2 separate regions of the Homo sapiens genome follow, and region 1 is linked to region 2. The links come from fine-mapping of genetic effects on gene expression. A gene starts in region 2. The other region holds a variant in brackets. All regions are shown on one strand. Distances are between the middles of the regions.

Region 1 (8,549 bases), 220 kb after region 2:
AACACTATGTTGAATAGGAGTGGTGAGAGAGGGCATCCCTGTCTTGTGCCACTTTTCAAAGGGAATGCTTCCAGTTTTTGCCCATTCAGTATGATATCGGCTGTGGGTTTGTCATAGATAGCTCTTATTATTTTGAAATACGTCCCATCAATACCTAATTTATTGAGAGTTTTTAGCATGAAGGGTTGTTGAATTTTGTCAAAGGCCTTTTCTGCATCTATTGAGATAATCATGTGGTTTTTGTCTTTGGCTCTGTTTATATGCTGGATTACATTTATTGATTTGCGTATATTGAACCAGCCTTGCATCCCAGGGATGAAGCCCACTTGATCATGGTGGATAAGCTTTTTGATGTGCTGCTGGATTCGTTTTGCCAGTATTTTATTGAGGATTTTTGCATCAATGTTCATCAAGGATATTGGTCTAAAATTCTCTTTTTTGGTTGTGTCTCTGTCCGGCTTTGGTATCAGAATGATGCTGGCCTCATAAAATGAGTTAGGGAGGATTCCCTCTTTTTCTATTGATTGGAATAGTTTCAGAAGGAATGGTACCAGTTCCTCCTTGTACCTCTGGTAGAATTCGGCTGTGAATCCATCTGGTCCTGGACTCTTTTTGGTTGGTAAACTATTGATTATTGCCACAATTTCAGCTCCTGTTATTGGTCTATTCAGAGATTCAACTTCTTCCTGGTTCAGTCTTGGGAGAGTGTATGTGTCAAGGAATTTATCCATTTCTTCTAGATTTTCTAGTTTATTTGCGTAGAGGTGTTTGTAGTTTGTAGAGGTGTTTGTAGTACTCTGATGGTAGTTTGTATTTCTGTGGGATCGGTGGTGACATCCCCTTTATCATTTTTTATTGCGTCTATTAGATTCTTCTCTCTTTTTTTCTTTATTAGTCTTGCTAGCGGTCTATCAATTTTGTTGATCTTTTCAGAAAACAGCTCCTGGATTCATTAATTTTTTGAACGGTTTTTTGTGTCTCTATTTCCTTCAGTTCTGCTCTGATTTTAGTTATTTCTTGCCTTCTGCTAGCTTTTGAATGTGTTTGCTCTTGCTTTTCTAGTTCTTTTAATTGTGATGTTAGGGTGTCAATTTTGGATCTTTCCTGCTTTCTCTTGTGGGCATTTAGTGCTATAAATTTCCCTCTACACACTGCTTTGAATGCGTCCCAGAGATTCTGGTATGTTGTGTCTTTGTTCTCGTTGGTTTCAAAGAACATCTTCCTTTCTACCTTCATTTTCTTATGTACCCAGAAGTCATTCAGGAGCAGGTTGTTCAGTTTCCATGTAGTTGAGCGGTTTTGAGTGAGATTCTTAATCCTGAGTTCTAGTTTCATTGCACTGTGGTCTGAGAGATAGTTTGTTATAATCTCTGTTCTTTTACATTTGCTGAGGAGAGCTTTACTTCCAAGTATGTGGTCAATTTTGGAATAGGTGTGGTGTGGTGCTGAAAAAAATGTATATTCTGTTGATTTGGGGTGGAGAGTTCTGTAGATGTCTATTAGGTCCGCTTGGTGCAGAGCTGAGTTCAATTCCTGGGTATCCTTGTTGACTTTCTGTCTCGTTGATCTGTCTAATGTTGACAGTGGGGTGTTAAAGTCTCCCATTATTAATGTGTGGGAGTCTAAGTCTCTTTGTAGGTCACTCAGGACTTGCTTTACGAATCTGGGTGCTCCTGTGTTGAGTGCATATATATTTAGGATAGTTAGCTCTTCTTGTTGAATTGATCCCTTTACCATTATGTAATGGCCTTCTTTGTCTCTTTTGATCTTTGTTGGTTTAAAGTCTGTTTTATCAGAGACTAGGATTGCAACCCCTGCCTTTTTTTGTTTTCCATTTGCTTGGTAGATCTTCCTCCATCCTTTTATTTTGAGCCTATGTGTGTCTCTGCACGTGAGATGGGTTTCCTGAATACAGCACACTGATGGGTCTTGACTCTTTATCCAATTTGCCAGTCTGTGTCTTTTAATTGGAGCATTTAGTCCATTTACATTTAAAGTTAATATTGTTATGTGTGAATTTGATCCTGTCATTATGATGTTAGCTGGTGATTTTGCTCGTTAGTTGATGCAGTTTCTTCCTAGTCTCGATGGTCTTTACATTTTGGCATGATTTTGCAGCGACTGGTACCGGTTGTTCCTTTCCATGTTTAGCGCTTCCTTCAGGAGCTCTTTTAGGGCAGGCCTGGTGGTGACAAAATCTCTCAGCATTTGCTTGTCTGTAAAGTATTTTATTTCTCCTTCACTTATGAAGCTTAGTTTGGCTGGATATGAAATTCTGGGTTGAAAATTCTTTTCTTTAAGAATGTTGAATATTGGCCCCCACTCTCTTCTGGCTTGTAGGGTTTCTGCCGAGAGATCCGCTGTTAGTCTGATGGGCTTCCCTTTGAGGGTAACCCGACCTTTCTCTCTGGCTGCCCTTAACATTTTTTCCTTCATTTCAACTTTGGTGAATCTGACAATTATGTGTCTTGGAGTTGCTCTTCTCGAGGAGTATCTTTGTGGCGTTCTCTGTATTTCCTGATTCTGAACGTTGGCCTGCCTTGCTAGATTGGGGAAGTTCTCCTGGATAATATCCTGCAGAGTGTTTTCCAACTTGGTTCCATTCTCCCCATCACTTTCAGGTACACCAATCAGACGTAGATTTGGTCTTTTCACATAGTCCCATATTTCTTGGAGGCTTTGCTCATTTCTTTTTATTCTTTTTTCTCTAAACTTCCCTTCTCACTTCATTTCATTCATTTCATCTTCCATCGCTGATACCCTTTCTTCCAGTTGATCGCATCGGCTCCTGAGGCTTCTGCATTCTTCACGTAGTTCTCGAGCCTTGGTTTTCAGCTCCATCAGCTCCTTTAAGCACTTCTCTGTATTGGTTATTCTAGTTATACATTCTTCTAAATTTTTTTCAAAGTTTTCAACTTCTTTGCCTTTGGTTTGAATGTCCTCCCATAGCTCAGAGTAATTTGATCATCTGAAGCCTTCTTCTCTCAGCTCGTCAAAGTCATTCTCCATCCAGCTTTGTTCCGTTGCTGGTGAGGAACTGCGTTCCTTTGGAGGAGGAGAGGCGCTCTGCGTTTTAGAGTATCCAGTTTTTCTGTTCTGTTTTTTCCCCATCTTTGTGGTTTTATCTACTTTTGCTCTTTGATGATGGTGAGGTACAGATGAGTTTTTGCTGTGGATGTCCTTTCTGTTTGTTAGTTTTCCTTCTAACAGACAGGACCCTCAGCTGCAGGTCTGTTGGAATACCTTGCCTTGTGAGGTATCAGTGTGCCCCTGCTGGGGGGTGCCTCCCAGTTAGGCTGCTCGGGGGTCAGGGGTCAGGGACCCACTTGAGGAGGCAGTCTGCCCGTTCTCAGATCTCCAGCTGCGTACTGGGAGAACCACTGCTCTCTTCAAAGCTGTTAGATAGGGACATTTAAGTCTGCAGAGGTTACTGCTGTCTTTTTGTTTGTCTGTGCCCTGCCCCCAGAGGTGGAGCCTACAGAGGCAGGCAGGCCACCTTGAGCTGTGGTGGGCTCCACCCAGTTCTAGCTTCCCGGCTGCTTTGTTTACCTAATCAAGCCTGGGCAATGGCGGGCGTCCCTCCCCCAGCCTGGCTGCCGCCTTGCAGTTTGATCTCAGACTGCTGTGCTAGCAATCAGCGAGACTCCGTGGGCGTAGGACCCTCCGAGCCAGGTGCGGGATACAATCTCGTGGTGCGCCGTTTTTTAAGCCGGTCCGAAAAGCTCAATATTCGGGTGGGAGTGACCCGATTTTCCAGGTGCGTCCGTCACCCCTTTCTTTGACTAGGAAAGGGAACTCCCTGACCGTTGGGCTTCCCAAGTGAGGCAATGCCTCGCCCTGCTTAGGCTCGCGCACGGTGCGCGCACCCACTGACCTGCGCCCACTGTCTGGCACTCCCTAGTGAGATGAACCCGGTACCTCAGATGGAAGTGCAGAAATCACCCGTCTTCTGCGTCGCTCACGCTGGGAGCTGTAGACCGGAGCTGTTCGTATTCAG[C/T]CATCTTGGCTCCTCCTGTTCTTCTTTTTACTGCTTTCTAATTCATTGTCTTTCTTTCCTCTTGTTTTTTTTTTTTTTCTTTCTTCCTTTGGTTTGCTGTATTGTTATGTCTTCATTATTACAATTTTTTTAAGTTCTACAGTTTTGTATTGAATTTCCCTTTTGAGCTGAATTATTTAGTAATGTGTTTTGAAATTTCCAGGTGGAACGATCTAATTTCTAGCCTTATTGCGTTGTGATCAGAGAAGTTTTCTGTGCTAGTTCCATTCCTGGAATGTTGGAGGGGTCACTCCGGAAAATAAGATGTGGCCAGTTTTGGTAAATGTTTCATGTGCACTTAAGTACAAGGTGTACTGTCTACTATTGGCATTAGAGTTTGATTATTACATCTACTTTATTGACTTAGTTCTGTAGGTTTTCTATATTCTTGTCAATATTTCGTCCCCATTATGTGTCTTATATTCAGAGATATGTGCTAACATTATCTATCGTTAGTTTCCATTCTCTTTAGCCTCTGCTTTATTAAAGTAGCTGTGTTATTACTTACACATATATTAGTCATTGAAATACCTCCATTGTGAATTGCAGTCTTTAGTATTACGAAATACTCTTCTCTGTGTCTTTATTTATTGCTCTTTGGTTTGCATTCCACCATGCTCAATAATATTGTGACCACTGCTTTTTAAAAATTTATTTATATCCTGTCTATCCTTTTATCTTTAATCTTGCTTAACTCTTTGTTTTTGATGTATCTTTTTAAAAACAACATAGTGTTAGATTTTACTTTGTTAGTCAATCTTAATCTCTTTTATTCTAATAGGTGAATTAAGTCCATTAACATTTATTGATAAAGATGGTAAGTTTGTACATAGACACAAATATATGAAACTATATATGTTCTTTTACTATGTCATCTATTTCATTTTATTTTCCTCAAAATCTCTCTTTCTCTCTCACTTTCTGTATGTAGGTATTGAGGGAGTATTTGGTAGTTTTTTTTTTTCCTAATGTTTACCTTTATGCTAAAACCTTTACGTATTACCTTTCTTCTCATTGCCAGTTAGCCCTCAACTATTAGCAATAATGAAATAATTTGCTACTAACATTTTTACTTTCTCTCTTCCAGCATCTAATTTGAAATGATACTCTTTTACTCTCAGGTAATACATATACTACTAAGTATATGTATTACTATGTAATTACTCAGCTTATCCTGCTTTTTATGCACTCTCCATATCCCTCTGATCACCTGCATTTTTCATAGTTGTTCTATGAATTGTCAGAGAATACAGCCATATTTCTATAACCATCATTTGATTTTAGTTCTACAGGTAAATGTATATTTAGTGCTTACCTCTTATTCTGATGCTGATGGCTTTTCAATTATTCTAGTTATCTAAAGCTCATTTTTAGTAGGTCACCCAGGAAAGGCATATTTAAACAATATTTCTTAAGTTATTGCATGCTTATATTAACTTGCAGCCTTTCTAGTTAAAAGTCAATTTTGCTGGATAGAAAATCTTAGTTCAATTTTTTCTTTCTCTTAAATTTTTAAGTATGTTACTTTATTTTCTGGGGTAAAGTGTTGTCATCAGAATCTTTTGACAATTTTATTTTTTTCCCTTATGAGTAACTTGACCCACTTATTTTTCTATCACTATTTTGAAATTTGCTCAAATATAGAATATTGCTATTATCTATAAGTTCAAATTAATGAGTTTCATGGAGTATGTGTTGTAAAGACCAAAAGCAAGGCACTACTTATATCTAAATGTACTTACTGAGACCAGTCATGAAATCTCTGATCCAGTTATTTCAGCTGCTTTTATAGAAGGATCAGAACCATGCAGTGATCTGATTCATTCTGTGATCTGCTGTGTGTCTAGGGGTGGGTGAGCCAGGGCGGGTAGCAGTATAAATATTGGGTCAAACAAGATAAAAACACAGCAAAAAACTTTTTATAATAAACCAAAATAAGTCTATTTTTTCACCTTTAAAATTAACTAAAATGGATATAATAATGCATTCCGCATCACCCAATGTTAACCTGGTGTTCAAGAAAAAGAGAATTTTTTGATGTTATTTTATATGAGGTTTTATGGTGCTTTCTACCCTAGAAATGAAAAAGAAGAATGTTAATAACAAGTAAACCACTATTTCTGTGTGTTAGATGTATACACCGTCAAATGACCTCCTCCACTAATGTGTTTGCCATTGACGGAGCTGAGCTTCATTAGACTTTCAGTTTCAATACTAGCATTTCTTAAATCTTAATGTGTGAATGGAAACCAGGAAAAAAGCAGCAATCAAGAACCATGCACAAGTGATGGTGCAAGACCTGTTCTTACTTTGAAATATAAAAGATTATAGTTGCTCATTTAAAATGTTATGATCTAATCATATCCATAAGCTGAAATTTGATTGTGCACATACAATAATTTAAATTTCCAAACCCAAATCAGTTCTCTAAAAGGCTAATATATATGTAAAGTATATCACCATATCATCATTTCCATTCCATTTAATTTTTATTTAATTTATCAGCAAAAAATTAAAAAAGCTATTTAGAATAACTTTCCAATGAGGTTCTATGTTATCTGGTCAGCATTGTCAGAAGTCACTTTTACTTCCTTCCATATTCAGCACTCTTGATAAGAAAAAAGAATTACAGATGACTTTGGACAGGTTTTTATTTAGTTAATAGATACAAATGGACATGCCTCTTTAAACTGGTAAAATAAAAGGGGGCCACTAACAATAACTTGTAGATTTCTACAGTCTTCAATGAAGATCAAGATAATATAGCTATTTAAAATATTTCTTCTATTACTAGGTTAGAGAAATTTTAGATATTACTACATTGCTAGTAAAATAAAATAAAATGTCTTGACCTTAAGGCTGGACATCTTATTTACATTTATGCATATTTCTAGACAAAGACAGATATACAAATAATAATAATACTGAATTTACTTAGACTGTCTACATTTGAGCCATTAGGCTGAGCACTTTACATGTTTTAACTCATATAATTGTAACAACAGTTTCTTGCCCCTGGTAGGCACCATCACTATTGCTATTTTATAAATGAAGAAACAGAGACAGAAAGGTAAAGTAACATGACCAAGGTTTCCCAGTTTGTAGATGAGCCAGGATTGTATTTGAACTGGGCATTTTAATAGCATTTAGATACATTTCCATATCAATAAACTACTTGTCTTTCATTTGTGAAAGCTGTCCTTTTCAGAAGAGCCCCTAAAACTCAATAATAATCTTGAACAATGTTTGTTGAAGGAAACACTTATAAGAAACCAGCCAATTAAAAAAGGAAAGAAATATATGTAATTCTCTGAACATCTAATAATTATACAATGTCATTCAATTAAACCATCACTCTTAGAAGCAGAATCCTTGTATTACCAAATACAATCCTTGCCAAATATCCAGACACAATCATGGGCTTTAAGGATTACAAGTCACATAATAAAGGATAATGACCTAAAATTAAGCACACCAATATAGAAAGCTGGGACTGTCATGCTCAGTATAAGTCAGCAATCTATTAGATTTAATGTGAGATTAAGGAGCTGTGTAACCCGCAATTACACTGTTTTTCATTAAGAAAAAAGGTGATGATGGTGCTCAGTACAATTCTTCCTTCTATTTACCTCTGTTTAATTGGATTGGGGACTGCTTAAACATCTTTGAGCTGGAGCTTATAAGAAGATGATCCCAGCTGTTTTTCAAAGCTTAAGGCAGCAGACAGACAACAGGATCATGTCAAGGCTCATGCAAAAGCCTTAATCCTACTTTTTACGGTCAAGCAGCTACTGCAGCCCAGTGTTTAACCTTATAAGTACTAAATGTGCTATGTCACTGCTTTGGTACATTTCTCAGTGAATTGTCATTGTTTAAAACTTTTAGCTTCAATGCCGTTAAAAGATCTCAATTCTCTCCACCTTTGGAGGCTGACCATGTTACTGTGCAATGGTTCACCACACTTCTAAAACGTCAGCTGGAGAACAGTGACTTGTTTGTTCATACATTCATCCACCCATTTACTCATTAGATAAATATCCAGCTTTTTTGTATATTTCCCCAAGCTCTCTTATAGATGTAGGAGAGTAACCAGAAAGGCACCCTTCCTTTCTTTGGAGGTCGACCGATGAGCCCCATGATCATAGCGTTTCAGACAGCTCTTTGGGACTCATTGTTGAAAGTAAAAAAAATAAGTTGAAGTTCTCTTCCACTTTTTCTAACTACATCTTGCCAATCCAACCATTCAACAACTTAACCTTAGAACTACCAGCTGTAGTTCTACTGAGAATAATATCGAAGTATTTAAGAAGTAAAGGTAAATGATCAAATTAGCTTTCTCTACAGCTGCACACGCTACTGGGATGGTGACATACTTTCTTTTCTCTTTTCCTTTGGAGGGTGACTGGTAAAGGAAAAAGGGGGTGGCTCTCTGATTTGTCCTGGTGATGGTGAGCAGCCAGCAGAAAAGCAGACACGCTTAATGCTCAGCTGCTCTGACCAGTCAAGCAAGCCA
Region 2 (8,549 bases):
GTGGAGCGTCTATGTTCAGCTTTGTCATTAAAAAAACAAGGTTGGCATCAGCAAGTCTTAACTAAGTCACATGGGGGAGGATCTTTCCTTGTATAAGCTGTTTTCTGGAACACTAAAGAGTGGGAGGGTTCCTTTAACCCTTCATGTTTTCCAGGATCACAGGACTTGGGTAAAATTCAACATGGTCAGTGACTACATTGGTACAAAGACCAACACATTAAAATAATATATTACAAGACTTTCTTTGACTTAAATGTTCTTTTGTTCTTTTCTCTCTGCCCCCATTTTGTGGGCCCCCAAATTATTATGGGTCCTGGGCACCGTCCCTAATGGATAAGCCAGCCCTGATCTGAGACACAGAGAGGCTGAGGGTCTCTAAGACCACTAAGCTAGCTACAGCAGAGCTCAGACAAGAGCAACTAGGTCTAGACCTCTTTCTACATTTGCGACTATGAAAACTATGGAGAAGGCTCTGCTCAAGAGGTAGGATGAAGGCTTGGGGATGAGGGGATGTGTGGGGATATTAACTTTGATATAAGAACCTGCAGACTTAGAAGGAAAGGATTGGTGAGGGAAATTCATTAAAGAGTTGATGGCTGGGAATGCCTTAACCGTTGACTGTCACAGGCACATCATTCAACAACATTTATTCTGTATCTCCTACGTGCTTGGTGTCCCTGCCTTTACAGAGCTTACAGTCAAGCAGGGGAGGCCAATGCACAAGCAATGGTAGTCAGTTGTGACAAGTGTAATGACAGAGGAAGCAAGGTAATTAGGAGTGAGTAACAAGCACATCTAACCTGCAGGAGGGAAGTGAGAATCCAGAATGGAAATGAACCAGTCCCAAAGGATGCAGAAGGCGAGAGGAGTGCTCTAGTAGGAAACACTGCATGCAGGAAGACCCAGGATATGTGAAGTTTAAGAGATGGAAAACCTGTGATCTTACTTGGGCCTGGCCAAATATCCTTAATATTTGGGAAGCCAGATATCAGTGAAAAAAAGGAGGAGTTAAAATCTCTCCCAACCTGCTTCCAGGAGTATTAGAATCCAAGACTAAGGAGCCAATAGGATTTGGAGGGTAAAGTCATGTAACTGAGAAACCTTAAAAAAAAAAGCAGTGTCTCCCCACCCCACATTTTACTAAACCACCCAGTCATTCAGTTTAGGTACTTAGTCTATTCACAACAGGCTAGGATGCTGGTTTCAATGTTGAATTTTTCACCCACTCTTGATACTTTTAATGGCTTTTCCCTATTCAGAGGCTGCATTTTTTGTTTTGTGGGTTTTCTGCTTTGGGTTTTTGTTTTTGTTTTTGACAGAGTCATGCTCTGTTTCTCAGGCTGGAGTGCAGTGGTACAGCTAGCTGCAGCCTTCAACTCACAGACTCAAGTGACCCTCCTGACTCAACCTCCAGAGGAACTGGTACTACAGGTGCACAGCCACCACGCCTGGCTAATTTTTGTATTTTTTGTGGAGATGGGGGTCTCCTCCTATTGTCCAGGCTGGTCTCAAACTCTTGGGAGCAAGCAATCTATTCACCTCAGCCTCCTAAAGCGCTGGGATTACAGGCATGAGCCACCATGCCTATGCAGTCTTGAGGAAAACGTCCTTCCATCCCTTACCAAAAGATCTTGGATATATTGATTTCTTTTCTTTTGTGTATATATCCAGCAGAGGAATTGCTGGATCATATGGTAGTTTTATTTTTATTTTTTTGAGGAAGCTTCAAACTGTTCTCCATAGTGGTTGTACTTATTTATATTGCCACCAACAATGTATGAGGGTTCCCTTCTCTCCACATCCTTGCCAGCATTTGTTATTGCCTGTCTTTTGGATATGAGCCGTTTGAATTTGGGTAAGATGATATCCCATTGTAGTTTTGATTTGCATTTCTCTGATGATCAATGATGTTGAGCACCTTTTCATATGCCTATTTGTCATTTGTATGCCTTCTTTCGAAAAATGTCTTTTTGGGTCTTTTGCCTATTTTTATATTTATTTATTTATTTAGAGATGGAGTCCCACTCTGACACCCAGGTTGGAGTGCAGTGGTGTGATCTCAGCTCACTGCAGCCTCCACCTCTCGGGTTCAAGTGATTCTCCTGCCTCAGTCTCTGGAGTAGCATCGACTACAGGCACACACCACCATGAGCAGCTAATTTTTGCATTTTCAGTAGAGACAGGTTTTCATCATGTTGACCAGGCTGGTCTCGAACTCCTGACTTCAAGTGATTTGCCCACCTCGCCCTCTCAAAGTGCTGGAATTACAAATGTGAGCCATTGTGTCTGGCCTTTTGCCCATTTTAAAACTGAATTATTATATTTTTTCCTATTGAGTTGTTTAAGCTCTTTAGTACCACCACTACGGAGAATAATTTGGAGCTTTCTCAAAAAACTAAAACTAGAACTACCATATGATCCAGCAACCCGATTGCTAGGTATACATCCAAAAGAAAGAAAATCAGTATATCAAAGAAATATCTGCACTCCTGTGTTTATTGCAGCACTGTTCACAATAGCCAAGATTTTGAATCAACCTAAGTTGTCCATCAACCGATAAATGGATAAGAAAAATGTGGTACATATACACGGTGGAGTACTATTCAGCCATATAAAGAAAGAGATTCTGTCATTTGCAACAACATGGATGGAACTGGAGATCATTATGTTAAGTGAAATAACCCAGGCACCGAAAGACAAACTTCACATGTTCCCACTTATCTGTGGGAGCTAAAAATTAAAACAATTCAACTTATGAAGATAGAGAGTAGGAGGATGGTTATCAAAGGCTGTGAAGGGTAGTGGGGGGTGGGGGAGTCGGGTGGAGGTGGAAATGGTAAATGGGTAGAAAAAACAGAAAGAATGAATAAGACCTACTATTTGGTGGCACAACAGGGTGAATATAGTCAATAATAATATAATTGTGCAGTTAAAAATAACTAAAAGAGTATAATTGGATTGTTTGTAACACAAAGGATAAATGCTGAGGTGATGGAAACCTCATTTACCCTGATGTAATTATTACGCATTGTTTGTCTGTATCAAAATACGGCATATACCCCATAAATATATACACCTACTGTGTATCCCCAAAAACTTAAAAAAAAAAAAAAAAAAGGTTGAGGCCTCATCTCTGCCAATGCCTAGGGTCAAGAGTTCACGTCACCTGGGCTCTTTTGATCTAACCCCCCCTAACTAATTCTCTCCAGCCCTGAGAGGACAGGCAACCGCAGGCTGCTGGCGGGCCTTTTCCAGCCGCCACCGCAAGTGAGAGAAGGAGGGAGGGAGGGAGGGAGGCAGCGGGTCCAGGTTGCAGGAAGGGAGAGCGGGTGCACCCGCCCGCGGGCGGCTGGGGCCAGAGCTAGCCCGGTCCGCGCGCTGCGGGGGCAGGACCGGGGCGGGGCGGGGCGGGGCGAGGCGGGCGGGGCCGGTACCCGTGACCCTAAGGGCGAGACCCGCCAGCCTGCCTGGCCTCTGCCGCTCCTCCGCCCCACGGCTCAGGTAAGGCAGGCACCCCCAGAGCGCAGGTCGGGCTGCCGGGTCCCAGGCTGGTGGTCTTCGTCTGCCCCTGGCTGGTGCAGCCGCACGCCTTCCCGCCTTCAGAGCACGGCGCAGGAGGGGACGGCCCGCGCTTGGATACAGCTGGGCCGGGAAAGAGGGTGGGCGTGCGCAGCGCTATCTCTAACCCCTTCCTTTGCTCTAAGTTCTTGCACTTGGAAACTGGAAAAGTCCCTCTTCAAACTCTTTTCCAGATGTGGCATCAGGAGTGAACAAAGCCGCTCATCTCGCAGTATCCCTACCTATGCTCCTGGGAGGAGTCTACCCCAGATACGGTTAGGGACCTGCCTTTCCCTATTAGGATAATTTCTTGGAACTTGGGAATTGGACTTCTATGGAACGGAATCGATTGAATTAATTTTATTTATTTATTTATTTTTAAAACTTTAATTTTAGGTCGAATTAATTTTAAAGCTGAGTTCAAGGGCAGGGAAAACGACCGGGTGGGCCTAAGCCTGCTGGGGTGTGACAGCTTGGGGCTGTGGGGACGGGGGCTGGCGAAACTTTCCTTGCTCTGCCGCTTGGGCTGAGTCGGCAATAAAGACTGCGGGGACAAGACTTTTGCCCCTTGTAAGGTTGGATGAGAGGCAGGAAGATAAAGGGGGGACTGTCTGTGCTGACAAAATCTGGAAAAGGTGATGCACTGGGAATACTTCCTTTTGGAAACTGGTGCTGACTTATACCATCTTCCCCACTTATTATAGCATTTTTGTATCCATTTCAATACAGTTAACGACGTTCTGTTAAACAAAACGTAGGTGTATGGTACGTTTGTCTTCCCCCGCCCGCACCGCCCCCCCCCCCCCCGCAGTTTTGTGTTAAATGACTTCAAGGTCACCGATTGGAGACTAGGTCACCTGTTGGGGATCTTTTTACCTGAAGTGTTTTCCTCCACCCCTTCCCATTGTCACTGCCAAAACACCATTCCTTTCTTCCCTGTTCAGCTCTCACCACTTACAAACCAGTGAAAAGGAAAGCGGCCACTTCTGTCATGCAAGTACTTGTGGTTAAGTTGGTCTTGTGCAGCTTTTTTTTTGTAAACATCACTTGTTCCTTTGTCTTTTTTTAACTCCTTCAATATTAAAATGTGCCAATAGAGTCTTCTGTAAAGAATGTAAAAGGCTGTAGGAGAAAGGGAAACTGCCCTTGAAGGTGTCTAGTAAAGTGATTTTTTTAACCTAAAAATTAATATTTTATATTGAGTTCCAAAGCTTTCACTTCTTTTGGAAAAGGTATTTTAAAATTATAAGTATTTTGTCAAGAAAATATTAACTAGGCTGGGCGCTGTGGCTCATGCCTGTAATTCAAACACTTTGGGAGGCCAAGGTAGGTGGATCGCTTGAGCTCAGGAGTTCCAGACCAGCCTGGGCAACATAGCAAAACTTCATCTCTACAAAAATCAGCTGGGTGTGGTGGTGTGCGTCAGTCCATAATCCCAGCTACTAGGAAGCCTGAGGGAGTTGGATGACTTGAGCCTGAGAGGTCGAGATTGCAGTGAGCCATGATTGCATGCTTCACTGTACTCCAGGCTAGGTGACGGAGAAAGACCCTGTCTCAAAAGAGAAAAAGAGAGAGAGAGAGAGAGAGAGAGAGAGAGAAAATAAACTCTTAAGTTTCTCCCTGTGTGTGAAATCTTCCATTAACGGTCTCTACCCAATGAACTGAATGCTTTAGAAATCTGACGTTCTAGTTTATACATGCCTACTGGAATGGAAGAGTGCATTTGACTTGTGAAATAACTTAAAGGAACCTTGAAAATAATGGTATCAGTAAGATTTTAAGATTTCAAGTTTGTTGCATTCAGATATCTTTGTAGCTTGACAATTCATATACTCGAAATTTCTGTTATTTAATAATAATAATGTTAGTAATAATGTTGCTCACAATAGAGGATGTCCTTTATGAATAATTCTTTTTTTTAATTTTTAATTTTTTGTTGTTGTTGTTGTTGTTGAGATGGAGTCTCACTCTGTCTCCCAGGTAGGAGTGCAGTGGTACTATCTCGGCTCACTGCACCCTCTGGTCCCTGGGCTCAAGTGATTCTCCTGCCTCAGCCTCTCCAGTAGCTGGGGTTACAGGTGCCTGCCACCATGCCTGGCTAATTTTTGTATTTTTAGTAGAGGTGGGGTTTCACTATGTTGACCAGGCTGGTCTCGAACTCCTGACCTCTAGTGATCCACCTGCCTCGGCCTCCCAAAGTGTTGGGATTACAGGCATGAGCCACCGTGCCTGGCCATTTAGGAATAATTCTATCGCTACATCATAAAAGGTACCTTTCTGGAGGCCTTTTCTATATGTATGGTTATTTTTTCCCAGTTGTTAAGCTTTGTAGATTCAGTTCTTCTCTAGGCTGAATTGGAAGCAGGCAGATGTGGTGGAGACCTGGACTAAAAGTATCTATCTGTGCACTGAGGTCTAGGCCCAGGTCAGCTTTGAAGTCCTTGCAAGACCTCTTCCTAATCAACTTTGGGGACCCAGGAGTTTCTTTATTTACATGTGTCACGTTTATCTTCAAAATGAGAGAGATATCTTTGGTCTGAAAAGACATTTGGGCCCCTTTGAACTTTTCTAAAAAATGCAAATTTTCATTTACAGAGCTAGATATCATTGCTGTAGGGGAACACTGATTCCAGAATTTGCTCTCATTTCCAGAGGCTGTCCTCACATGCTGACCACCACCTCTGCCCCACCTAACCAGCATAGTGCAGTGATTAAGAATTGAGTTTTTCATAGACTGATGGATCTGTTTGTTTCCTAGCTCTGACCTTCGGCAAGTTACTTATGTTCTCCAAGACTCATTTTCTTCATGTTTGGAATAGTGATAATAATGCATATTGATATTATGAGGACCGCATGAAGCAGTGAACGTAATCTAAGCAGCACAGTGTCTACAACTTAACATATAGTCAGTAAGTGGTAGCAATTGTTTACTTTGACACTGACTTTTCCTCTCTCTCTCTGTCTTTTTTTTTTAACAAGTTGAAATTCAACTGGGAGAAATGTAAAGCCCTACACAGTAAGTGTTTAAAACAATAAGCGAGTACAGGATGAGGGAGATGTAATTTACTGAACCAGTCAACCTTTTGGTTAATTGACATTTTGTTGCTTGTGAGTCGGCAGTGAGTTGTGAGGGCCCATGTATTAGTCCTTTCTCATACTGCTCTAAGGACACTGCTCTAAGACTGGGTAATTTATAAAGAAAAGAGGTTTAACTGACTCACATTTCCACGTGGCTGGGGAGGCCTCAGGAAACTTACAATCCTGGCGGAAGTCACCTCTTCATAGGGTTGCAGGAGAGAGAATGAGTGCGGAGCAAAGGGGGAAGCCCCTTATGAAACCATCAGATCTCGCGAGACCTTACTATCACGAGAACAGCATGGGGGAAACCATCCTCATGATTCAATTACCTCCCACTGGGTCCCTCCCACCACATGTGGGGATTATGGGAACTGCAAGATGAGATTTGGGTGGGGATGAAGCCAAACCATATTAGCCCAGAAAGCTGATATGATTTTTAGATTGCTTTAGTATAGATTAGAACACAGAGTCCTGTGAAATCCTTATTCTCCTTAGGGTATCAGTACTCCTACTTTCTTTGTTACCACTTTCTTATGTTAAGAGGAATAATGAATTTCAGAATGGGGGAGTGAGAAGGTGTGGTTGATAGAGACTACCTTTTCTATTAGAGACTGAGCTATGCCCCCCACTTTTTTAGACTGGATATGTAAATTACCAGCTGAATGTTTCAGTAATTGGACTTCCTTGGAGAAACTCTTCTTGATCTCCTCCCAGCAGGGTTAAGTGCAGCCTCTGCTGCGCTCTCTACCTGCTTTGTGGGAACCAGGCCTAGCCCTTCTCTTTCTGCGGTAATGGAGGCCCCATGATCTGTCAGCATCATGGGACAGGAAGTGGGGCCTTCATCTCATTCTCAAGAGGAGAACAGAGTCAAGAACACAGTAGGTGCTTTATAAATCTTTGTTAAATTAATTAACTGCCACTTCCCAAACCACTGTTAAAACAAATTGCTTTATTTTCTGTGATGCATTGCATAGTTTTCTTCTCTTTCTTAAATGTGCAAAACCCTGTGCTAATTCTATATGCCCGCTTTTGAGAATCTATATGCCTGCTTTTGAGAAATACAATGTATTTAGCTGTAATTATTATTTAAAATTGAAAATAAAAATAATTTGTAATAGCATCATTAATTTTTAGTTAAGGGAAATAATGAATGTGATGCCTAATAATCCGTTATGCCACATAGGAGCACAGATAATTATTTCTCCTCTTGTTGAGGAACTGGGATGTAAGCATTTAAAGTATCTTCTTTATATGCATTTTGATTTCCAATTGAACAAAAAAATATAAACAGGAAGGACTTCATTCTTTTTTCCAGTGAGATCACAGAGATAAACCAAGTTAGAGCAACTCTCTTGAATAGCTAATAGCTGTCGCCTGGGGAAGGAGAAAATTATTTTCTGCCTTCCATGTTGATGTATATAGAACATGTGTTCTGAGTAGCTCCTATTTTCACTGCCTCTTTTTCCAGTTGAGGTGCAACATAAACTATTTTAATTAACATTGTGTCACCAAAAGGGGTTGAAATAGCCAATTGAATTCTGCCAAGATAGAGTCTTTTGATGAAAACATATCTTTATTGATTGTGGATGAAGAAAATCATTCTTAAAATGAAATCCAGAGAAAAATCATATCCCTCAGAGAAAATTTCTGAGTGGCAGGCTGAGATTAACATCATAAAATTGAATTTGTGCTGCAAGCCTTTGATGTAATCAGCAGCTGGGAGATGGTGTTGCCCTTGCTGTGCTCTCTCTGATTGTGGTGAATTATTGTGTGGAATGAAATAAGTGTTTCTTGTGTCCCTCCTCCAAGAAATACAAACAAGGTATTACCAGGTAGTTTCTTGCTAGTTAAAATGGGTTGGATCGATTCCAGGCCTCTCAGGCTCTTATACACCCATGAACTATAGGTGTTGG

What was found. PIP is the estimated chance that this variant, and not a neighbour inherited with it, causes the effect.
Region 1: its variant is fine-mapped to the expression of WDR72 in lung (TOPMed, PIP above 0.99).

What each region holds. Positions count from the first base shown.
Region 1 is chr15:53,536,098-53,544,646 of GRCh38, reverse strand. All of the region lies in intron 18 of WDR72 (WD repeat domain 72), which reads left to right. The region is part of intron 5 of LOC105370826 (a long non-coding RNA gene); the gene reads right to left. Among named protein-coding and RNA genes, the nearest start is that of WDR72, 220 kb to the left of the region's middle. The variant C/T (reference allele first, on the strand shown) is at 3,998.
Region 2 is chr15:53,754,585-53,763,133 of GRCh38, reverse strand. WDR72 (WD repeat domain 72) reads left to right here and starts at 3,471. Exons shown (of 20, transcript NM_182758.4): 1 at 3,471-3,501.